4 separate regions of the Homo sapiens genome follow, and all the other regions are linked to region 4. Evidence: fine-mapped expression QTL. A gene starts in region 4. Each other region holds a variant in brackets. All regions are shown on one strand. Distances are from middle to middle.

Region 1 (6,044 bases), 39 kb after region 4:
GCCCCGTCACCCGCACAGCGGTCGTCGTGATTATCCCTGCCGGCAGGGTGTTGCAGCATTGAGGAATCGCGGTTCTTTGCTGCCTCCCTCCGCTGTGGAGCCCAGGCTTTCGCCCTCCCTAGAGCTCCTGAGGCCTGGCCGCTCAGCGTCCTGTAGAGCCGGGCCGGTAGCCCTTCGCACCGTGAGGGTCTCCGCTTAACGCAGGCCCTGGAAGCTTCTGCCTTTGCGTAAGGAGTGGGTGCTGAAGGAGACGTTGAAACTGCAGCTTTTCTGAAAAGCAAGGCACCTGTGCAGTGGCCGAGGATGGCTGTGGGAGCCTCGCTCCGGACGCCACGCCTGCCTCAGCTGAGTTGGTCTCCCTCATCCTGTTCCCGCTGTCCACAGCCCCACCCTAAGCTGATGAGGAAGCCTCACGGGCCACCCGGGGAATCCAGGGCCTGTGCTCAGCTGCTGCTGCTCTGCCCCCTGGCGGCCCCTCCGTGTCCCTGCGAGGGAGGCAGCTGGCAGGCAGCCCCGTGAGCCGGGTTGGGTCCCACGAGTCTCAGTTCAGTGTCGTTTCTGACTTTTCTTGACTTTCTTTCAGGCTAAGTCCTATCAGCCATGGAAACACCATTGCTCTCTTCTTCCGGTCACTGTTGCCAAACTATACCATGGAGGTAGGTTGAGCTCGTCCCAGCCCCTGCCTCCCCAGTGGGTGCGGGCATATCCATTCCAGTGCGAATGCCTGGAGCCTCCTTGAACCAGGACTGTGCCAGCCGGCACAGGGAGCAGGGAAGGACCAAGGCTGCATTGTGCCAGTGGGGTGCCCATTCTGCCGGGGAAACTGGGGCCTGCCCAGATGGTAGCAGATGCAGGGCCGTGAGTCAGCCGGCTTGATCCCACTCTGTGCCTGGCTTGGTCTAGACACGGCATTTGGTTTTGAGAGCTTCCTCCTCACAGGGACCTGGGGAGGGTTCAGGGTCCGGTGCTGGGGCAAGGGCCACCTCGGGCTCCACAGTGCCTCCTGCTTGGGCCCCGGGCCCCTAGTCCCAGCACAGACAGCCCCCTTCTCAGACATGTCCCCTTGCTGCAGGGGGAGAGGCCCGAGGAAGGAGTGGCTGGGGGTCTGAACCGCAACCAGGGCCTGAACAGGCTGATGCTGGCTGTGCGCGACATGATGGCCAACTTCCACCTCAACGACCTGGAGGCGCCGCACGAGGACGACGCTGAGGGGGAGGGGGAGTGGGACTGAGCGTCCGCAGAGGTGACCGAAAAGCCGTATGATGATGTTCCCGATTTCTCTGTTGGTCGGAGTCGGCCAGTTGCCTGAAGTAGGGAAGCTGAGTGTGTCGCTCCCTGGTCCACTGTTTCTCCTATAAATGTAAATGGGTCACGCTCTGCCGTCCGCACCTTCTCCTTTCGCAGGCACTGAGCGCCGTCCCATGCCCTCGGATTCGAATCACACTCAGTCCATTCTCCTCCCAGTGGCTTGTGGGTGAGGTGGGGCCCAGACCCCATGCTTCCTGTGCTCCCAGGATCTGGGCACGGGTGGAGAAGGGGCCCCACGGGGTCTTCAGTGCAGGTCCCTGCTGAATGCCAAGGCCCTGGGTGCACGTCCTCCTTGAACTTGCTGTGGAGTTCGTCAACAGAGCTGCGTGCCTTGTTGGTAGAGGGTCTCAGGGCAGGGCTGGAGCAGAGAGGCCCCTATGTGGCAGCCGGCCTTCAGTCTTGTTCCTCCAAGCAAGTGGGGTGGAGATGTTGGGGTCCTTTGGCTGGATGCCACTATCTGTTGAATCTGACAAAATAATTTTCTTTTTTTTTTTTGAGACAAGAGTCTCACTGTGTCGCGCAGGCTGGAGTGCAGTGGCGCAGTCTCGGCTCACTGCAAGCTCCGCCTCCCGGGTTCACGCCATTCTCCTGCCTCAGCCTCCCGAGTAGCTGGGGCTACAGGCACCCGCCACCACGCCTGGCTAATGTTTGTATTTTTAGTAGAGACGGGGTTCCACCATGTTGGCCAGGATGCTCTCAATCTCTTGACCTCATGATCCGCCCGCCTTGGCCCCCCACAGTGCTGGGGTTACAGCTGTGAGCCACCGCGCCTGGCTCTGCCAAAATAATTTTATTAGAGAACTTGAGGGCAGTGCCCAGAATTGAAGGCGAAGCCCCAGAAGCATGTTTTGCAGAGAAGTGCCCAGGGAAGCTCTGAGGGCCCATGTAGCAAAGATCAGGGGATAGTCGGTCTGAGGGTGAATGGGCCACTCGGACCAAGACCCCAGTCTTGGGGGAGGGCTTAGCTGGAGCAGGTCCTGGCACAGTTGACTGATGGTGCACAGAACCCGTGCATCCCACGGCCCCACGGTGCTGCAGCTGCAGGAGGGGCGGAGGCTGCAGCCAGACAGCATCAGAAGCCAGCGTGGTTCTGGAAGGATCGAGAACACCAAGGTGTTAGGGCTGCAGCAGGGGTCCTGTCCCCTGGCACCCCTCACCGCCCTAATCTTTTACCCTTAGGAGGCAGCAGACACGAGGGGCTGCCCGAGGCTCTAGGGCGGCCAGTGAGGCAGGAAACATGTTCCAGCCCCAGCTAGGTACTGGTCCGTGGACCCACCTCCCAGAAAGCCCATCACTGTGTAATCGTCTAACCTGGGGCTCGCCGAGGC[C/T]TGTGAGTTCATCCTTTTGGCAGTTCCTGGTGTCTCCTTACTCTGCTCAGCATTTCCTGGGCGGGAGCTTAGGGTGCAGGACCCTCCCCAGGACGACGAGGGCCCAGTGTCCATGACAAGAGTTGGCCCGAGGGCTGAGCCACGTGTGCCCATCTCAGACGTGGGCCTGAGGGTGCAGCCCTGGCCCTGTGCTGGCCATTTCTAGGAGCGGTGCCCTGAGGTCCCAGCTGTGATAGCCCCACGCTCTGCAGGAAGAGATCATGGGGGCGGGGAGTTGGTGCTGCGGCCTCGTTCCTCTCTGCAGTGAGTGAACGATGTTTGTGGTCAGCAGGAGCCTGTGGGGAGCACAGGCTGGTCCTCCTGGTGTCCCACCCACCCCTTTTTCCATGGGGGATCTGCACTCATCTCCAGGGAAGATGGTTGGGAGATAACCCCAGTCTGCTCTAGGTCCCCACCCTCCACAGCCAGGGTGGTCCGTGGTGAGCTTCAGCCATCGAGATGCGGGAGTCTGCTAGAGTCTTCAGGGTCTTTTCTCTGAAAATGACAGGCTAGCAAGGAGACCTGGGTCCCCTGCCTCTTCCATTCCAGATGCCTTGAGTCCACCCAAATAGGGGATGTGATGTTTGGAGCTGCAGCAGCCGCCCTACGGTTGGGAGTCAGAGAAGAGCCGGTGTTCCAGGGACAATGCAGCAGAGGCTGAGCCCAGGCCTGCTGTCCTGAGAGGTGGCTGGATCACTGACACTTTGGCAGTGGTGCTGGGGTTTATGTCATGACCTGCAGCTGAGCCTACTTCCAATGACCGTGAGATCTGAAAGACTGTTTTGAGGGCGTAGCCTCTGCCATGATTGTGGGGAATGCTGTCCTGTTTCCTCCCTTGGCCCTGCTCAGCCCAGCGAGAGGCTGAGGCGCACGTGGCTCCCCGGGTGCCCACAGGCAGCGTGGCTCACCAGCCGGGCCCTTTTCCACTGAGCCAGAACCCCCCAAAGCCTTCAATGCAGGCACCACGGTGAGCCCACGAGAAACCCTGCTTGCCACCTCCCACACCCCCACCCCCAAGTTCAAAGGAAATGGTCCCTGAACCAAGGGCTGAGATCAGCTGTGGGTCCAGCTGTCCTGGGGAGCTGTACTGGAGCCCACCACGGTGGGACTGTTGGTCCGGCGGTGACCCCCACCTCCATGTCTGTGGCCGCAGCTGGACAGGCCACTCCCTGGGCCACAGAGATGTTTTACCTCTCGCAGCCCTCGGGCACACATTGAGCAGATGTGTGTGTGTGTGCGTGTGTGGGTGGGTGCGCATTTGTGTGTGCCTGTGTGTGTGCGCATGTGGTGTGGGTGCACGTGTGTGCACGTGTGTGGGTAAACATTGTGTGTGCGCATACGTGTGTGGGTAAACATTTGTATGTGCACGCGTGTGTGGGTAAACGTGTGTGCGCACGTATGTATGTGTGTACATTTGTATGTGTGTACATTTGTATGCATGTGTGCCTGTGTGTGTGTGCCTGTGTGTGTGGGTGCACATTTGTGTGTGTGTGTGTGCCTGTGTGTGTGTGTGCACGTATGTATGTGTGCACACTTGTATGCATGTGTGCCTGTGTGTGTGGGTGCACATTTGTGTGTGTGTGCCTGTGTGTGTGGGTGCACATTTGTGTGTGTGGGTGCACATTTGTGTGTGTGTGCGCCTGTGTGGGTGCACATTTGTGTGTGTGTGTGCCTGTGTGTGTGCCTGTGTGTGTGGGTGCCTGTGTGTGTGGGGCACATTTGTGTGTGTGTGTGCCTGTGTGTGGGTGCACATTTGTGTGTGTGCCTCTGTGTGTGTGCCTGTGTGTGGGGGTGCACATTTGTGTGTGCGCCTGTGTGTGGGGGTGCACATTTGTGTGTGCGCCTGTGTGTGTGGGTGCACATTTGTGTGTGTGTGCGCCTGTGTGTGTGGGTGCCTGTGTGTGTGTGGGGCACATTTGTGTGTGTGTGTGTGCCTGTGTGTGGGTGCACATTTGTGTGTGTGCCTGTGTGTGTGTGCCTGTGTGTGGGGGTGCACATTTGTGTGTGTGTGTGCCTGTGTGTGGGGGTGCACATTTGTGTGTGTGTGTGCCTGTGTGTGTGGGTGCACATTTGTGTGTGTGTGTGCCTGTGTGTGTGGGTGCACATTTGTGTGTGTGTGCCTGTGTGTGTGGGTGCACATTTGTGTGTGTGTGTGCCTGTGTGTGTGGGTGCACATTTGTGTGTGTGCCTGTGTGTGGGTGCACATTTGTGTGTGTGTGCCTGTGTGTGTGTGCCTGTGTGTGTGGGTGCACATTTGTGTGTGTGTGTGCCTGTGTGTGTGGGTGCACATTTGTGTGTGTGTGTGTGCCTGTGTGTGTGTTGCAGGCCCTGGATGCCAGACACTGAATAAACGCAGGAAGACGTCTGTCTTCATTCTCCTCGTGGGTCGCTGGTCCAGAAACACCTGGATGGAAAGTGCTCTGCAGGAACGGTGCCTCTGCCTGTGGCGGGGACCCTGGTGAGCGGATGGGCCAGCCCCACGTGTCTTCCGGCCACTCAGCATGCAGTGTTTCCAGGGGCACTAAGAGACCAAAATCGAGATATGATTAGCTGTAGGATGTCATCTAATCACAGATCATCCCGAGGCTAATTTATCTCCCCCATGACCATAACACATCAAAAAGTTGACTTTTTGCAGCTCGGCTGTGCCTCATCTTCCCACGAAGCCCCGACAGGCACATCCAGTGAGGAACCACAGTGGGAGTCCTGTGGCAGGGTCACCCCACTTCCGATGCCCTCCAGCTGCATCTTGGCACGAAAAAGGCTGCCCAGTTCTCATGCCCTTTCAAGTCCCGGGCTGGGGGGTAGCAGTGGAGGCTGGGGTTAACCGCCGTCCGTCTCAAAGGCCTCATTGTGGAGCTGCAAACACGAACGTCCTTGAAATGTGAGGGGACAGTGCTCTGGGGCAGGGGCTGCTCACTGGTTCATGGCCAGAGGTGAGCGGGCTCTGGGTCTGGGTCTGTGAGGTGCTGTGGACGTCGGGGGTGCTCCTGGGGCAGGGACACAGCCACGGCCCTCACACCAGTGGAGCCGTCTTCCTTCCCGAGGCAGAGGCTTGGCCTTCTCACACCTTGGGACCCTTCTCTCCCCTGTGCTCATGCTGGAAGCACAGCGTGAGGGGGCAAAGGTCATGGGAGGCAAAAGGCTGGGCTGAGGCCGAGGCTCTGTGGCTGTGGCCGGATACCAGGTCCTGTGGTGGTGTGGGCAGGGCGCGCTCTCTCCTCTGAGCAGCCTGGGGCTGCGTGTGTGAACAGAAACAGGCCTGCCGATTTGAAGATGGTTTGACCAAGTCTCCCAAAGCTGAAGAGAGGTCCCTGCCCATGTCCCCCGGGTGGCAATCCACAGACGCACCTGTGTCCATCAGACGGT
Region 2 (6,044 bases), 21 kb after region 4:
GCCCCCTCCTGGCATCTGCCCAGGCTGCCTCGTTGGGTCTGTTCTGGAGGCTTCCTTACTTGTTTTGTGGGATAGCTCACCGCAGGTCAGGCCATCCCTGGGATTCTGTACATCTGGCCCAGGAGAGTGCTGAAGGGCTGACTCTCCTAGGCCTGGGCGTGTGCTACAGGCAGGAGAAGCAGGCTGGGGCCACCTTCATGTCAGGAGGGCCCACCACACTGGCCTCCACTCTGCGGTGGCTGAACTGTGGGGAGCCCGGGGCCAGGGCAGGGATGGCCCCGTGGGAAGGGAGCTGCACCGTGCTGATGGTGACCGTGGGCATGGCTGCTGCTGTCTGTGCTGCCGCGGCTGCCACGCCCCACCTGTCTGGTGCCTGTGTGCTCAGGCAGAGTGCCCTGACCTCTGTTATTTGGGGGTCTCTGCCACAGGGGTCAGGCCCACTCTAAGCACTGGTCAGCTGGTATCTGAGCTGGGCAGGTGGGGCAGCATGGAAAAGGCATGGAGCTGCTGTTACCTCAGAGATGGTTGGTTTCTTAAGTTGAGTGATGGGCATGTGGATATTAGTACGTTGTTCTCTTTCTTTTCGTTTTCTTTTTTTATTTTCCTCTTGAGACAGGGCCTTGCTCTGTCGTCCAGGCTGGAGTGCTGGGATCACAGGTGCAGGCCATCACGCCAGGCTAATTTTTAAAACCCTTTGTAGAAATGGGGTTTTGCTGTCTTGCCCAGGCCAGTCTCGAACTCCTGGGTTCAAGAAATTCTCCCATCTTGGCCTCTCAAAGTGCTGGGATTACAGGTGTGAGCCCCCGTGCCCAGCCAGAATTGTTTCTTTCTCTCTATGGGGCCCTCCCTGCTGCACCCGTCCCACAGCAGTTGCTGACGCTTGTTTGCATCCTGTCCTTAATGCGTCCCCACCCTGCCCCACATGCCTTCTCTGCCCCTCAGTTTTGCTTCCACAGCCCGTGCAGGGATCAGGCAGCCAAGCCTTGGTCCCCACACGCCACAGGAAGTAAAGCTGTACCTGTGTCCCGTTCTCCCCAGGCCACGGCAGAGACAACGTGTGTACCCCAAGTGCACATGGCTGACCACCCCTAAAAGCACCTGGCCCCGCTACAGCAAACCAGGTGAGGGTCTGCAGATGCTGCTGGGGATGGAGGGTTGGGGGGCGTTGTCTGTGCACTGGCCCCGGTACAGCAAACCAGGTGAGGGTCTGCAGAGGCTGCTGGGGGTGGAGGGCGGCGGGGGGGTGTGTTCTGTGCACTGGCCTGCGCTGGGCACCAGGGGCGTCAGTGCCTCTTGAGCCGAGACTCTTTGCTCCAGGAGCGCTCCAGGAGTGTGCAGTGTGTGACTGTTTGTTGCCACACTGAGGGCCTGAGTGCTGGAGGCCTGGCCCAGTACCTCAACACGGAGCCTCCCAGGCACAGTCTTTGTGTGACTGTCTTTTAACGCAGGTTCTTCCTACCATTCTGCCATCGACCTTTCCCTTATGGAAGCAATCGAGTTCATTTTAAACTGCAATATTTTGTATATTATTGCAAACTAATAAGTGATTTTAAGATGAATTGCAACAGTGAAGACAGGCATGGAGTGTTGGGTGCTTGGTTGTGTGGTGTGGGGAAGTGTCAGGAGGCCTTCCACACTGGCCTCCACTCTGCAGTGGCTGAACTGTGGGGGCCCTCAGGGGCCAGGGCAAGGACAGCTTGTGGGAAGGGAGCTGTGTGGTGCCCTTGGTGATCGGCATGGCTGCTGCTGTCAGCGCTGCCATGGCTCCCACGGCCGCTTCTCCTGCGCCTGTGTCTGTGGGGGTGCCGGAGATTGCCTGCATACATTCTGTAAGGACACATCTAGGAGCGAGGCCTGTGCTGTCAGAAGGTGAACCCCGCTGCTCACGGCCCCTTCCCTTCCTGGCAGGAACCCCTGCTCACTGCAGACAGGGGTTCCATGGCCATGTATTCCTGCAGGACTGGGGCCTTGGGCAGGGCCATCAAGAAGGTATCACTACAGGGGACCTAGTCCATGGAGGTCCTGGGAGGCTGAGCTTTCCAGGTTTATCAGAAGAAACTGGGTCCCATACACCCAGTCAGACAAGAGGAGCCAAGTGAGAGGGTGGTCACACGTTACAAAGCTCTGTGGCTTCAGAGGCCTGGCGCTGTGGCCACCTGTGCCACCGCACTCCAACCCTGTCCTTCCACAGCCACCCCGGACATTCTCCTCAATCAGACGTGGTCTGGGGACAGTGCTCGGCGTGGTCAGATCTGGCGATCTGTGGACTGTGTGTGTCCTTGTCCCTGACATTCCCTCCAGGCCAGTGGGGCTAGAGCTGTATCCGAGTTCTGGAGGCAAACACGTCTTGATAGGAAACTAAAGCAGACGGGATGCCGTCTCCTGGTGTAGACCAGACGGCGGGTGTTTTGGGAAGGTGTCCGGAGCTGGTGACACCCATGAGTACACACTCAGGTCAAGTTTGTCGATATCGCAGAGGCCTCATCCAGAACACCACGAAGGTGAGGGCTGTGCTCGGAGCTGCCCACGTCCCTGCTCCCGGCACACCCTCCCTGAGCACTCTCCCCTCCCAGGTCTGTCCATGCGGCTGCTGGAATCAAAAAAAGGCCTCTCCTTCTTTGCGTTTGAGCACAGTGAGGAGTACCAGCAGGCTCAGCACAAGTTCCTGGTGGCCGTGGAGTCTATGGAGCCGAACAACATCGTGGTGCGTGGTCCCTGCAGCCCCTGACAGGAGCAGGGGCCATGTAGCCACCACTGCCCTGGGCCGCCTGCTTCCCTGGTGGCTGGGGGAG[G/T]CATGCTGCCTCCTGCCCTTCCCAACAGGAAGGGTGCCAGTCTCTGCAGGGCGGTCTGGCCCTGTGACCAGAAGGAGATGTGTTCGGAGGCTCTAGGCCAAGCGAGCTCCATCCATACTCAGAGGAGAGGCTGGAGCGCTGCTCTCTCAGCCGTTCCTGGGGACCGTCGCAGTAGTGCCGTGTGATGCAGGCCCAGGACTCTGGGGCTTCTCACTGCTGCCCTTGCCTCCTGCGGCTCAGTGCAGGCGAGCAGCTCAGATTCCCGGCCCCCGTGCAGCCCCCGGACGGCCCCCACACGGCCCCGGACGGCCCCCGCGCAGCCCCAGACAGCCCCGGACCTGGACAGTCCCCGTACAGCCCCGGTGCAACCCTGGACAGCCCTCATGCAGCCCCTGGACAGCTCCCCTTGCAGCCCCGGACGGCCCCCGCGCAGCCCCAGACAGCCCCCGGGCGGCCCTCACGCAGCCGCCGGACAGCTCCCCTTGCAACCCCGGACAGCCTCCGCAGAGCTCCCCGTCATCTCCCTGTGGGAAAAGCAGGCTGCTGCTTTCCATTCCTCTTTCTTGGGGCTTAGTGGGGAGTTAGGTGGCCCCTGGCCTGGGCATGTCAGGTTCTGAGTTCTTGCTTTAAGTCATATAATTGGTTCAGCTTAGCAATAATAACTAGCCTATTTTGAGTTGGGGGGACGTTGTGAGTGTCGACCCGGTAATTCCCCCGTTTTTGTTTTTGTTTTTGGAGTCGGAATCTCACTCTGTCGCCTAAGCTAGAGTGCATTGGCGCAGTCTCGGCCCGGGTTCAAGCGATTCGCCTGCCTCAGCCTTCCGAGTAACTGGAATTACAGGCACACGCCACCACACCCGGCTAATTTTTGTATTTTTATTAGAGACCAGGTTTTGCCACGTTGGCCAGGCTGGTCTTGAACTCCTGATATCAAGTGATCCTCCTGCCTCAGCCTCCCAAAGTGGTGGGATTACAGGCGTGAGCCACTGCGCCCAGCCTCCGCTGGTTTTAAATGTCTGAAAAAAAGGCATGCCTGGGAGCTGGGGCCTTGCTGAGTGCCTTTCCTCCAGGGCTGTCCTCCCTTCTGGTAGGTTCTGCTCCAGACGAGCCCTTACCACGTTGACTCACTCCTGCAGCTCAGCGATGCCTGCCGCTTTCAAGAGGATCAGGAGATGGCTCGAGACCTCGTAGGTAAGGCAGAGCCCCCACCCCATTCCCCTCAGCTGTGGGAGCACCTCAAGCTATCAAGACAGATGCGATGGTGTAAGATGACAGGGGTTGCCAGGATATCCATGACAGCTTTATTGAGATACAACCTACGTAGCACAAAACTTACCCATTTAAAGTTTTTGTTTGTTGGTGTTTAATATATGCCACAGCCTCCCGAGTAGCTGGGACTACAGGCGCCCGCCACCAGACCTGGCTAATTTTTTGTATTTTTAGTAGAGATGGGGTTTCACCGTGTTGGCCAGGATGGTCTCGATCTCCTGACCTTGTGATCCACCCACCTCAGCCTCCCAAAGTGCTGGGATTACAGGCATGAGCCACCACGCCCCGCCCTCTGGCTTTTATTTACAATGAAGTTTTCAAGGTTCATCCTCACTGTAGCGTCGATCAGAACGTCGTTCGTTTTTATGGCTTAGTAATACTCCACTGTGTGGACGGACCACATGTTGTGTATCCATCATTAGTTGACGGCCGTGTGGGCTGTTGTAAATAATAGTGCTTACGTCAGCATGCACACGCAGTCTTAGGTGGACACATCTGTGCTGCACACATGGACGCCTGGTTCTGTCAGGACGTGGCAGCAGTTGTGCCTCATGGTGTTGAAAGTGTTACCATGTCAAGCTCACAAGTTCTGTGGTTGAAATAAATGCAGCGTGGCATCCAGGGTGCCCAGGGGCATGTCTGCCCTCTCAGTGTCCAGGACTCTAGTTTCGTGACCTTCCGTCCAGACCTTTCCTTGTTGTCCATTATCAGAGGAGGGGCCGTGGTTGCTGTGTGTGGCCATGACACCCTCCCCTGGCGTCCCTGTGCCCACAGAGAGAGCGCTGTACAGCATGGAATGTGCGTTCCACCCCCTGTTCAGTCTCACCAGTGGGGCCTGCCGGCTGGATTACCGCAGACCCGAGAACAGGTGAGTGCAGCTGCCCTGGAGGTGACGCAGCTCCCCTTCCCTTCTCCTGCGAGTGAGGCTGGGGGAGGTGCAGTGGGCACCTCATGGCTGCCCTCCAGGGTGGACCAGGGCCCACAGGTCCAGAGTGACCCACCTTCCTCTCTCTGGGCTTAAGGATAGAGGGATGGGATTGTCTCAGCCCAGGTTTACCTTTGTCTGTGGACATGCCTGATGCTACTGTGGAGGTCAGAGTGGGAGGTCTGCTGAGCCCAGGAGTTCAAGTCCAGCCTGGGCACCATAGTGAGACCCCCATCTCTTAAAAAAATAAAAATAAAAATAAATGTTTGTGTTAGAAGTGAGCCTGGCTGGGCACAGTGGTTCACGCCTGTAATCCCAGCACTTTGGGAGGCCGAGGTGGGAGGGTTGCTTGAGCCCAGGTGTCAAGACCAGTCTGAGCACCGTGGCAACATGCAGTCTCAAAACAGCATTTTTTTTTTTTTTTTTTTTTTGAGACGGAGTCTCACTCTGTCACCCAGGCCGGAGTGCAGGGGCGCGATCTCGGCTCACTGCAAGCTCCACCTCCCGGGTTCAAGCCATTCTCCTGCCTCAGGCTCCCGAGTAGCTGGGCCTACAGGCACGTGCCACAACGCCTGGCTAATTTTTTGTATTTTCTAGTAGAGACGAGGTTTCACTGTGTTGGCCAGGATGGTCTCCATCTCCTGACCTTGCGATCCACCCGCCTCGGCCTTCCAAAATGCTGGGATTACAGGCGTGAGCCACCGCGCCCGGCCACTACAGAACATTTTAAAAACTAGCTGCGCCTGGTGGCGCGTGCCTGTGGTCCCAGCTACTTGGGAGGTTGAGGCGAGAGTATCACTCAAGTGAGCCCAGGAGGTCGAGGCTGCAGTGAGCTGAGATGGTACCAGTGCACTCCAGCCTGGGCAGCAGAGTGAGACCTTGTCTCTCAAAAAAAAAAAAAGAAGAAGAAGAAGAAGTGAGCCTGAGAAACCAGATCTCCACAGTGGGCTCTGCAATTGCATTTCCTTCTATGTTTGGCTGAGAAAACCCATCCCTGGCAAGTTTAGAAGCTTTGGAAGGCTTTGCAGGTTTGACCTTAAATCAGTGAGGAGCTCAGA
Region 3 (5,625 bases), 53 kb after region 4:
AGATGACCTTGGTCCAGGACCAGGCTCTCCATCGGCGCAGCCGCTCCTGGGCAACCCCCGCGGGGCTTGACCGCGCCCACCCAGGGTCTACCAGTCTGGGGATTGGATGTGGGAACAAAGCCGGGCTGTGGGGTGTGGAGGCTGCACCGTGGCGCGCCCCTCCCTCCATTGTTAGCCCACCTCGCAGATGTTGGGGCCACGCAGAAAGGGGCGTTGGTGCAGCTGTGCAGGGACCCCTGCCTAAATCATTAAGGGGACGTCGTGTCCCCTGGTCCTGGGAGGCTGTCCCTGGCCCAAGGTCACACAGCAGGTGCGAGAGAGCTGGGCTGGCCCTTGGTTCTCATCCCCTGCAGGAGCCAACCTGGGGCTCGGGCGGGGCGGGTTGGGGGCGCTGCTTGCCAAAGGATCTGCCCTCCGAACAGTGTTGGGGAACAGGGGATCGGGGGGGGAGGCTGGCTTTGTCAGGACCAAGGCCAGGGACCCAGCTCAGGGCTGGTGCAGCGCTGATTCTGGGAAGGAGGGGGTGCAGGAGACGGTCCTGGAGGGGAAGGGGCCAGAGAAAGGCAGCCTCCGGAGGCTGTTGCCATGGAAACCAGGCAGGAACAAAAAGCTAATTACAACAGGGCCAGCCACGTGGCTGACATGTAAATTGCAACTTTGGCTCCGGGTGGAGGCGCCTCTGAGGGTGGGAGGCCCAGTAGTGGGGAGACTCTAATCACCCAAGGAGACAGCTGTGCCTGCCAAGGAGAGCCTGGGGGAGGGGAGACCTGGGGGACAGTGGCCTCAAATCAAACCAGGACTCCCGGAGCAGCCTCTGACAGCTGCCTTGGCCTGATGGGAGGGGCTGAGGGCTCATTAATGTGGTCACTGGGGCCAAGCCTCCCCTGAGCATCTGCTCCTGGGAGGGTCAGGGGTCGCTGGGGGGAGGGAGGGCAGGCAGCCCTGGGGCTCCTGGGAGGGTCAGGGGTCTCTGGGGAGAGGGAGGGCAGGCAGCCCTGGGGCCCACCTGGGGTTTCTCCTTCTATGGCTGGGATGGGCCCAGAGCTGTGGTCCCACAAGGCACTTGTCAGGCAAGAGCTGGGATCTAGAAGTCAGGTGCACATGCAGACATCCCCTGAGGCTCCACGGGTAGCAGAGGGAGCCCTTGTCCCCTGGACCGTGTCCTTGGCTGCCTTGTGCTCTGCTTCTGAACACTGGAGCTCTTAGTTTGCCCGCTACTTTTTATTCCTTTTGAGTTGTTTGTTTTTTCTTAATATATTTCTTTTTAAAAATTAATACCTGGCCGGGCACGGTGGATGAGGAATCTCATGTAATCCCAGCACTTTGGGAGACTGAAACTGGAGGATCACTTTAGCGAAGGAGTTCAAGACCAGCCGGGATAACATGGTGAAACTCCGTTTCTTAAAAAAAAAAAAAAAAAAATTAGCCTGGCGTGGTGGGCCGCGCCTGTAGTCCCAGCTACCTGGGAGGCTGAGATGGGAGCATTGCTTCAGCGTGGGAGGTCGAGGCTGCAATGAACTATGACCGCACCACTGTACTCCAGACTAGGCGATAGAGTGAGATCCTGTCTCACAGTAATAATAGTATCTGATTCTTTTTAACAATGAAAGCAACAGAGAAGGAAATTTTCTCGGGGGCGGGGGCGGCAAGAGCGTGTTCCTTTGCTCTGCTGCCCTTGTGGAATCAATGGGAAGTTCCTTGGCCGTTCTCGGCCTCCACTCCCGCAGCTGATAGGGGGTGCAACGCGGCTGCTTCCCTGTCTGGGGTCCTCGGGCGGTGCCTGGCTGGGCAGGAAGGCCCGTGCACTCTGGGCAGAGGGAAGTCGGGGTGACTCGAGGCCGGGAGCAAAGCCGGGTCCCGGGCGGTCACGCGGCAGCGCGGACGACTCACCGCGGTCACCCCTGCGCTGGGAGCCGAGCCCCCGGCAGCTCGCGGGGATGCAGTAAGCCGGGCGCAGCCCGCCGGGAGGATGAGAAAACCCGAAGCCCGGAAAGCCGAGCGGCCGCCTGCAGTCACCCCGGGGGGGGCAGGGGCGGGCCGGGCTATGCAGAAACACCGGGGCCCGCGGGACACAGGACGCTGCCCCACTGCCGCAGAGCTGAATCTGGACCCCCGGGCTTTGCTTTCCTGGGGCCTGTGCTCCTCCCTCCCCGGGGCGGGGTTCGCCTGCAGCGGCGGAGGGGGGAGCCTTTGTCCTCCGCGCGGGCTGCGGCACCGCCTCCTCGCGGCTGCGGGGCGGGGCTGGGGGCGGGGCCTGGCCGTCTCAGCCAATGGGAGGCGGAGTCCCTGGCTCGCCCCGCCCTCTCGCCTGAAAGACCTGCGGAGCCGCGGGCCGGGCGGGAACCGCATTCGGGTCCTGGAGGGGCTTGGAGGCCCCAGTCTCGCAGCCCCTTCATCGGGGACCCCCGCTCCCACCTGCCTTGGCCACTGCCCTCAAAGCCCGGCCCCGCTTTCCCCAGGACCCCAAGCGCTGCGCGAGGTCAGCACCAAGGACAGCGCCCGGGCCGAGCGCCTGGCCTCGAACGCCGGGTTCTGCTTTGTGTTTCCAGGTTTTTGTTTTTGGTTATGAGAGGAGGCCTGGCTCTGTCGCCCGGGCTGGCGTCCAGAGGCGCGATCTCGGCTCACTGCAGCCTCGGCCTCCCGAGTAGCTGGGACCGCAGGCGCTCACCACCACGCCTGGCCACAATTTTCCTTTTTTCTTATTTTCTTTTAGATGGAGTTTGGCTCT[T/C]GTTGCCCAGGCTGGAGTGCAGTGGCGCGATCTCGGCTCATTGCAACCTCCACTTCCTGGGTTCAAGCTATTCTCCTGCCTCAGCCTCCTGAGTAGCTGGGATTACAGGCGCCCGCCACCACACCTGGCTTATTTTGTACTTTTACTAGAGATGGGGTTTCTCCATCTTGGTCAGGCTGGTCTCAAACTCCTGACCTCAGGTGATTCACCTGCCTCAGCCTCCCAAAGTGCTGGGATTGCAGGCATGAGCCACCACGCCGGGCCGATTTCCTTTTCTGTAGTGATGTTAACAATTTAGTTTATAAAATTATATTTTATTGTTTATTAAATATGTAACATAGGCCAGGTGCGGTGGCTCACACCTGTAATCCCAGCACTTTGGGAGGCCGAGGTGGGTGGATCACCTGAGGTCAGCACTTCAGGGCCAGCCTGGGCAACATGGCAAGACTCCGTGCCTACAAAAAATAAAAAACAAAAAAAATTAGCTGGACATGGAGGCACGCCGGCCTGTGGTCCCAGCTACTTGGGAGACAGAGGTGGGAGGATCACCTGGGGGAGGTGGGCAGAGGTTAAAGTGAGCTGAGGTCATGCCCCTGCATTCTAGCCTGGGCAATAGAGCAAGACCCTATCTAAAAAAAAAAAAGGAACAATATATTTTATTACTTTATCTCAAATTATAATTTTATTAATTTTAACTACAAAAGCAATTAATATATTCTCCTGGTTAAAAAAAACCTTAAATATTGCAGATAAACCTGGTGCCCATCTAGCCACCTCTCTCTATCCAAGTGGGAACAAATTTCTTTTTCTATCCTTCTGGTCCATTTTTTTTAAGTGACCTGTGCATATGGTTTTAAAACTTTAAATAGTATCTAAAACATTTGAACAAAATGAAGCCAACATGTGCTGAATGTTTTCATGTCAAGCTTTGTGCTAAGGCCTGGATGTGGGCACCATTCACACGTTCATCTCACAGATGAGAAAACAGGTCCTGCGAGGCACGCGCCTGGCCCACAGCTGTGCTCGTGCTGGGTCTTGAATCCACTCTGCTCCATTGCTCCTGCTGCCCTGTGCCTCGCTCTGCAGAGGACTTCCCATAGATGTGTTACTCTCTCCACCCCTCCTTTACAGGGGCTGGTGGTTGTGGGTTCCCTGGAACCATAAATTTGGGGTGTCCCAGTGCTTTGGGGAGCAAGGTCCCCGACTCAAGTGGACTGCCAGCAACTAAATTAATGGGGGATCCTCAAAGAGAGTGTTAGGGAGGCAAGCAGTAGGTGGGAAGCTTGGACAAGCCCCAAATGCCTCAGGGACCTTTCTGTATTTTTTTTTTGAGACAGGCTCTTACTCTGTCGCCTGGACTGGCATGATCTAGGCTCACTGCAACCTCCACCCCCCTGGCTCAAGTGATCCTCCCACCTCAGCCTCCTGAGTAGCTGGGGCTATAGGCATGCGTCACCATGCCCAACTAATTTTTTTGTTTTTTGGTAGAGACAGGGTTTCACCATGTTGCCCAGGCTGGTCTTGAACTCCTGGACTCAAGTGATCCACCTCTCTTGGCCTCCCAAACTGCTGGGATTATAAATATGAGCCACCATGGCCAGCTGATTTTTTTGTTTGTTTGTTTGAGATGGAGTCTCACTCTGTCACTCAGGCTGGAGTGCAGTGGAGTGATCTCGGCTCACTGCAACCTCCACCTCCTGGGTTCAAGCAATTCTCCTGCCTTAGCCTCCTGAGTAGCTGGGATTACAGGCACCCGTCACCACACTGGCTAATTTTTTTTTTTTTTTTTTGAGGCGGAGTCTCTATCTGTTGCCCAGGCTGGAGCACGGTGGCACAATCTCGGTTCACTGCAAGCTCCGCCTCCCAGGTTCACGCCATTCTCCTGAGTCAGCCTCCCAAGTAGCTGGGACTACAGGTGCCCGCCACCGCGCCTGGCTAATTTTTTGTATTTTTAGTAGAGACAGGGTTTCACTGTGCCAGCCAGGATGGTCTCGATCTCCTGACCTCATGATCCGCCCACCTCGGCCTCCCAAAGTGCTAGGACCACAGACAGGCGTGAGCCACTGCGTCTGGCCTAATTTTTGTATTTTTAGTAGAGATGGGGTTTCACCATGTTGGTCAGGCTGGTCTCGAACTACTGACCTCGTGATCCACCCGCCTTGGCCTCCCAAAGTGCTGGGATTGCAGGCGTGAGCCACCGCGCCCGGCCTTTTTTTTTTTTTTTTTTAAGATAGGGTTTCACTCTTGTCCCACAGGCTGGTGTGCAGTGGCTTGATCTCAGCTCACTGCAACCTCTGCCCCCTGGGTTCAAGCGATTCTCGTGTCTCAGACTCTGAAACAACTGAAATTACAGGTGCGCGCTACCACGCCCGGCTAATTTTTGTATTTTTAGTAGGGACAGGGTTTTGCCCTGTTGTCCAGGTTGGTCCTGAACTCCTGACTTCAAGTGATCTGCCTGCCTCAGCCTCCCAAAGTGCTGGGATTATAGGCATGAGCCACCACACCCAGCCTGAATCATTTTTGTAATTTAAAAATTTAACGCAAAAAGAATAAAACTTAGCAATAACAAAAATGCACAAAAGATGGAAAGAAATCCACCCCTGACCTTTGTGGAGAGATGACCTCTGATAACAGTCTCAGGGTGAACGGGCACCTCTGATAACAGTCTCAGGGTGAACGGGCATCCCGAGACACTGTTAGCAGAGGTGGTCCATGTCCATGCTGTCCGCGTTACAATAATTACACTATGTTTATTCTTAAGGTTTTAAAAACATTTATTTTTAACAAATTTTCTTTGAAAAGCTACCGTGTGCACGTGAGAAAATCTCAACAAGACCACAGGGCACCCGTGAGAAGAAGCTCCTCCCAGTCTGGGGCCCCTCCCCAGGCACAGCCTT
Region 4 (6,044 bases):
TTTTCTCACTGAAGAGAGAAAGCAGAAGGTTCTAGATCCTGGCACAGACTGCATCCCATGTTCCCATGCTCTTCTCCGTCCCCAGGAATGCGAACGGCAGTTTCCCTTCCCCAGTGGACGTCTAGGTGGGGACAGGGTATCTTGGCTCCCAGCTGGACCAGAGTGCCCTGCTTGCCTCTGCTCTCCCTTTGTGGGGACTCAGGCAGCAGAGGCATCTGGGAAGTCTCTGAGTAGGCAGGGTCCTCCTGGGAGGCACCCCCACCTGTTTGAAAGGTCTGGCCAGGCGTGGTGGTTCAGGCCTGTAATTCCAGCACTTTGGGAGGCCGAGGAGGGAGGATCACCTGAGGTCAGGAGTTTGAGACCAGCCTGGCCAACATGATGAAATGTTGTCTCTACTGAAAATGCAAAAATTAGCCAGGTATAGTGGCAGGAACCTGTAATCCCAGCTACAGGGGAGGCTGAGGCAGGAGAATCGCTTGAACCCGGGAGGTGTAGGTTGCAGTGAGCCGAGATTGCACCACTGCACTCCAGCCTGGGCGACAGAGCGAGACTCTGTCTCGAAAAAAAAAAAGGTCCGTGCCAAGCTGCTCCCTGCCCTTGCCCTTTCCCTTTCCCTGGGGTCCAAACCACATGTGTCCTGCCTCTCCTGGCCCTACCACATTCTGGTGCTGTCCTCACTCGCCCCTGGCCCAGAGGCTCCTGAAGATGCTGGGCGGTCCTGGCACAGGGAGGAGCAGCTCTGTAAATCTGTGCACATGGCCACTCTTGGCCTAATAAAGGAGGTCTCACAGTCTTCTGTCTGGGATGTGCGCTGAGGATTCACCCAGCATGGCATGTTCTCCCAAGGTTGAAGCTGGGCTTGAGGGGCCACCTGCCTTCCAGGACGAGGAAAGGCCTCCTGGCTTAGAGTCAGGTGCCCACCAGGCAAGGGCTCCAGGCCTGCTCTGTCCACGCAGCCCTGGCTGCCTCTACCAGCTTCGTGGTCCTGGCCACCATGGTCAGGGCTGCATGCGGACGGCACAGACTACTGCCCATCAGCTCCTCTGGCCACACCTGCTGGCCTGGGGGGTACTTTGGTCTCATTTCCCAGATCCGTATTCTCGTTCTCCAGGGAGAGGATCCACAGGGGCAGGAGGTGTGACTGCAGGCTCTAGACAGGCCCTGTGCCGAGTGCTGTCTGCTCACCTGCGCCCGGCTCAGCCTGTTAACGGGGCCCTGCCCTGCTCCTCCGTGACGTTCTGCCGTCATCTTACCTTACAGATGAGGGAACTGAGGCTCAACGAGGTCAAAGAATTTGGCCAAAGATACACAGCTCACCCAGAACTTTGACTCCAGGCTGTAATGCTAGCCGTGGGGCCTGGAGGTCAGAAGGGACAGGACTTGTAACTGATGGGCCTGCGGGAGAAAATACTCCTGTCAGCTGGGGTCCAGGAAATCCAAACACACAAAATTAGAGCCCCCAGTAAAAACAGCCAGCTTCTAGCATGCGTGTAAGCATTTCACGGACTCTCTGGCCTGTATTTTTATTCCTGTTTAAAAATAAGAAAACAGGCACAGAGAGGGTCAGGGAACTCCTCCGGTCACACAGCCAGCAATAAGCTAATGTGTAGTGCTTGGTAAGGACGACGGTTGTTCTGGTTCTACGGGGACTCACACTCCCTATCATGGGGAGACTGGGTTGTAATTCATACAGGAACACTTGGAAATGAAAGCCCACGTTAAAACCCTAAACCACGGCAGGTGCAGTGGCTCACACCTGTAATCCCAGCACTTTTGGAGGGTGAGGTGGGCAGATCACTTGAGGTCAGGAGTTCGAGACCAGCCTGGCCAACATGGTGAAACCCCATCTCTACTGAGTACAAAAATTAGCCGGGCATGGTGGCACATGCCTGTAGTCCCAGCTACTCGGGAGGCTGAGACAGGAGAAGTGCTTGAGCCTGGGAGATGGAGGTTGCAGTGAGCCGAGATTGCGCCACTGCACTCCAGCCTGGGCAACAGAGCAAGACCTCATCTCACAAAATAAAATAAAACCCTAACCCATCCTGGGAGGGGCCAGGCCGGCTCACCAGGGCTGCTGCTTGTGCTCATGAAGCCGCAGTAAGTCGGGCAGGAGGCTGCTGGCACCTGTCTTCTCTATGCCCTCCTGTCCCCATGTCCCCAACCCCAGGCACAGGAAGCTGTGCCCTCCGCCCACTGAACCCAGCACTGTCTCAGCCTCATCTACTTTATTTTTTTCATTTTTTTGAGACAGGGTCTGGCTCTGTCGCCCAGGCTGGAGTGCAGTGGCGCGATCTCGGCTCACTGCAGCCTCAGCCTCCCGAGTAGCTGGGATTACAGGCGTGCGCAGCCACGCCCAGCTAATTTTTGTATTTTTAGTAGAGGGAGTTTCACCGTGTTGCCCAACCTGGTCTCGAATTCCCGACCTCAGGTGATTCGCCCACCTTGGCCTCCCAAAGTGCTGGGATTACAAGCGTGAGCACCGCGCCCGGCCCTTAGATCGTGACAAACGCGGGCGGCCTGTCCTAGAACTGTCAGAACCACTGTCCCTAAAGAGGCCTCGGGCGGGCAGTAAGGGCCGCGTCACTCAATGCTGCTCGAGGGGCGGCGGCTCCAGGGCAGAGGCGGGCATCGACGGCTAGATCACTCGAATGACACCCTGACACGAAAAGGACCAACTAGCAACGTCCGGGACGCAGCTGAAATGCTGCAGGCACGGTGCGGGGACAGGCCCCGGCGGGCAGAACGCGGCTGCGGGTTCCGGGCCACATGGATGGGCAAGGCCGGGCAGGGCCGACTGTCGCCGGCTGCGCGCCCGTTACCCCGAATCGAAGCCCGTCATCCCCGCGGGGCACCTCTCCATGCCCGGTGCGCACGGCGCGCAGACACCCAGCTCTCCAGAGACCTGGCCCGGACCCCCCGGAGCCCGCCCAGACGCCGCCGCTGAAGCGGGAAAGTTCCGGAGAGCCGCGACGCGCAGGCGCCGCAGCCAGGTCCTGCCCCCACCCCTCGCGCCAAGAGTGCGCAGGCGCGCAGCCAGCTCCCCCGCCCCCGACCCCGCGCGAAGAGTGCGCAGGCGCGCCGACAGCCGAGTTTTCTGCGCTTCCTTCTCCCTCTCTCCAGACGTCGTGGTCGTTCGGTCCTATGTCGCGCCGGGCCCTCCGGAGGCTGAGGGGGGAACAGCGCGGCCAGGAGCCCCTCGGGCCCGGCGCCTTGCATTTCGATCTCCGTGATGACGATGACGCGGAAGAAGAAGGGCCCAAGCGGGAGCTTGGTGTCCGGCGTCCCGGGGGCGCAGGGAAGGAGGGCGTCCGAGTCAACAACCGCTTCGAGCTGGTGAGGAGCGCGGCGGCCCGGGTGGGGGTGGGGTGGCCCTTGACGTTGTGGGGCGGGGCGAGCGTCCAGCCGGGTCGGGGAGCGGGGTTGTGATGCCAGGGGTGGGAAGGGTGACGTGGGTCCCAGCCGCAGTGGGGAGGGCGGGGCCGTGCGTCGGGGCCAGGGCGACGCGGGTGGGCGGTGGCGTGGGGTGAAGACGGCGGGCCGCGGAGTTAGACTGGGTTCTAACCCCGGTGAGGTGGGCGGGGCTAAGGGATGGGGCGGGGCCGTGCTGTCGGGGCGGGGCGACCGAATGGGCGGGGTTAAGCGGGGTCCGGGTTGTGGAGGGTGCGGGGCCTTGATGCCAAGGGCGTGGCCAACGTCCGCGGGGCCGGGCCACGACGTGGGCGGGATTAAATGGGCCTGCGGCCACGTGGCTGTCGTGGGGCCGTGACGCTAAAGGGCGTGGCTAAAGACGGGGGGGTGGCGAGGCGATGGCGTGGGCGGGGTTAAATGAGGCCTGGGGCCACCGTGGGGGTGGGGCCACGGCGTAGGGGCAGGAGTCGGGTGGGGCTTCCCTTTCTCGAGTCTAGAGGGGCCTTCTCTCGGTTCCAGGGTTGAGGACTTGCCAGGCCTCTGCGAGCATTCTGCTTTAATCCTCACAACAACTCTGCCTAACCCAGGGCCTTGCTCTTCGCGCATCCCCATCAGCCTAACCCAGCGGATTAGTCTTACTCTTTGCTGCATCTCCGGCAGCTCGTTTCTGGCACAGGGAAGTAACAGTTTGACTGTATGGTTTGCTCATGCGGTCCTGTGACGTTTTCTCCTAAGCCCTGGCCTCCGTCTGTAACTCTGCCTCTGCGGGCTCTGCGATCCTCCCACCTCAGCCTCCTGAGTATCTAGGACTACAGGTGGATGTCACCACGCCCGGCTAATTTTTTTTTTTTTTCTTTTTTGTAGAGAAGAGTTTTCGCCTTGTTGCCCAGGCTGGTCTAGAACTTCTGCGCTCAAACAATCTGTCCACCTCAGCCTCACAAAGTGCTGGGACTACAGGCGTGAGTCACCATGCTTGGTTGACTGCCCTTCTCGCATCAAGTCCACCTTTAGTGGTCCCCAAGACCCCCGTCAAGGTTCAGTAATTTGCTAGATTCACAGCAGTTACTGAAAGCTTTTTGTTTTGAGATGGAATCTTGCTCTGTTGCCCAGGCTGGAGTGCATTGGCACAATCCTAGCTCACTGCAACCTTGAACTCCTGGGCTCAAATAGTCCTCTCACCTTGGCCTCTCAGAGTGTTGGCATTAGAGGCATGAGCCACTGTGCTTGGCCCCGTAAGTCTTTTTAAATTTTTGTCAATGTAATTTGTGAAAAATGATATCACATTATTTTATTTTACACTTCTTTGGTAGTGAAATGCAGCACCTAGCTATGTATTCGTTGACCATTTATATTTCTCTTTGTGACAACCTGTTTATATCTTTGCCTTTTTATAGGGGGTTTGGACAGTCTTTTTGCTCGTGGAAGCTTGCTATCGATTGTCTCTAACGTATTTTCTCGGTTTGTGTTTGTTCTTTAACTTCTTTAATTTCTGCGTGCTGAAAGATACTGGAGCCACTTTTCTCATTGTTACACATCCATCTCTCTAGAGTGTCTTCACATAGATATTCCCTGACGTGAGTTTTTTTTTTTTTTTTTTTTTTTTTTTGAGATGGAGTCTCGCTCTGTCGCCCAGGCTGGAGTGCAGTGGCATGATCTCGGCTCACTGCAAGCTCCGCCTCCTGGGTTCACGCCATTCTCCTGCCTCAGCCTCCCAAGTAGCTGGGAACACAGGCGCCCGCCACCACGCCTGGCTAATTTTTTGTATTTTTAGTAGAGATGGGGTTTCACCATGTTAGCCAGGATGGTCTCGATCTCCTGACCTCGTGATCCGCCTGCCTCGGCCTCCCAAAGTGCTGGGATTACAGGCGTGAGCCACTGCGCCTGGCTTTTTTTTTTTTTTTTTTTTTTTTTTTTGGTTACAGACAGGGTCTCACGGTGTTGCCCAGGCTGGTTGCTGGTCTTGAACTCCTGGGTTCAGGTTATCCTCCTGCCTCAGCCTCCTGAGCAGCTGGGACTACAGCATACCCTACCATGCTCAGCTTGTTCTTTTAATGCTTTTTTTTTCCCATTTAAATATTTAATCTTTTTGGTATTTATATTTGTGTTGGTGGGAATTTGGAAAAAGTGTGGTTCATGAGTTGACAGAGTAAGAGTCTGTAAGGTCAGAAACCACACAAACCCTTGTGGACTTTCTGGAGTGAGTTTGAGTGTCAGTAACACTAACAGCCTCCATGGATGAATGACTGCTTATCGTGCTGTGTTCTTAGGAATTTCAGAGAATTTTATCCAGTGGCACACATCAGTCTTAATTTAAGCATTCCATACTTTTTTGCTCTTAAAACTCATATTTGGAAATAATATAATCAAAATGTTTATTGGCATTCTGTTAAATAGCTCTTAATAAACAGAAGTATGGGAGACAGTAAACAGCCAGTTACGACTAAATGGTTATGAATGTGAATGCATTGGTGAGAGACATGGTGTTTCTCTTTTTAAAAAATTTTATTTATTTAGAGACAAGATCTCTTTATGTTGCCTAGGTTGGTCTTAAACTCCTGGGCTCAAGAGATCCTTCCGCCTTGGCCTCCCAAAGTGCTGGAATTGCAGCTCCCAGTACTTTGGGAGGTGGGCAGATC

The links. PIP is the estimated chance that this variant, and not a neighbour inherited with it, causes the effect.
Region 1: its variant is fine-mapped to the expression of TCF25 in whole blood (TOPMed, PIP above 0.99).
Region 2: its variant is fine-mapped to the expression of TCF25 in whole blood (TOPMed, PIP above 0.99).
Region 3: its variant is fine-mapped to the expression of TCF25 in thyroid (GTEx, PIP 0.98).

Annotation. Positions count from the first base shown.
Region 1 is chr16:89,910,008-89,916,051 of GRCh38, forward strand. It overlaps TCF25 (TCF25 ribosome quality control complex subunit), which reads left to right. Exons shown (of 18, transcript NM_014972.3): 17 at 584-656; 18 at 1,073-1,372. The coding sequence ends at 1,231. LOC124903759 (keratin-associated protein 5-1-like) reads left to right here and starts at 1,652. Exons shown (of 4, transcript XM_047435031.1): 1 at 1,652-2,638; 2 at 3,225-5,133. The coding sequence starts at 4,094. RefSeq lists a silencer at 214-508 and enhancers at 2,052-2,553, 2,554-3,053. The variant C/T (reference allele first, on the strand shown) is at 2,637.
Region 2 is chr16:89,891,155-89,897,198 of GRCh38, forward strand. TCF25 (TCF25 ribosome quality control complex subunit) reads left to right here. Exons shown (of 18, transcript NM_014972.3): 6 at 1,039-1,121; 7 at 2,574-2,704; 8 at 3,884-3,983; 9 at 4,836-4,929. Among named protein-coding and RNA genes, the nearest start is that of TCF25, 21 kb to the left of the region's middle. The variant G/T (reference allele first, on the strand shown) is at 2,793.
Region 3 is chr16:89,924,025-89,929,649 of GRCh38, forward strand. All of the region lies in intron 1 of TUBB3 (tubulin beta 3 class III), which reads left to right. Among named protein-coding and RNA genes, the nearest start is that of TUBB3, 3.5 kb to the left of the region's middle. RefSeq lists an enhancer at 1,248-2,148 and a silencer at 1,915-2,574. The variant T/C (reference allele first, on the strand shown) is at 2,729.
Region 4 is chr16:89,870,527-89,876,570 of GRCh38, forward strand. TCF25 (TCF25 ribosome quality control complex subunit) reads left to right here and starts at 3,066. Exons shown (of 18, transcript NM_014972.3): 1 at 3,066-3,333. The coding sequence starts at 3,142. It overlaps SPIRE2 (spire type actin nucleation factor 2), which reads left to right. Exons shown (of 15, transcript NM_032451.2): 15 at 1-793. It overlaps LOC112268179 (a long non-coding RNA gene), which reads right to left and starts at 2,962. Exons shown (of 2, transcript XR_002957933.2): 1 at 2,442-2,962; 2 at 1-1,395. RefSeq lists enhancers at 1,824-2,780, 2,551-2,710 and silencers at 2,791-2,910, 3,381-3,850.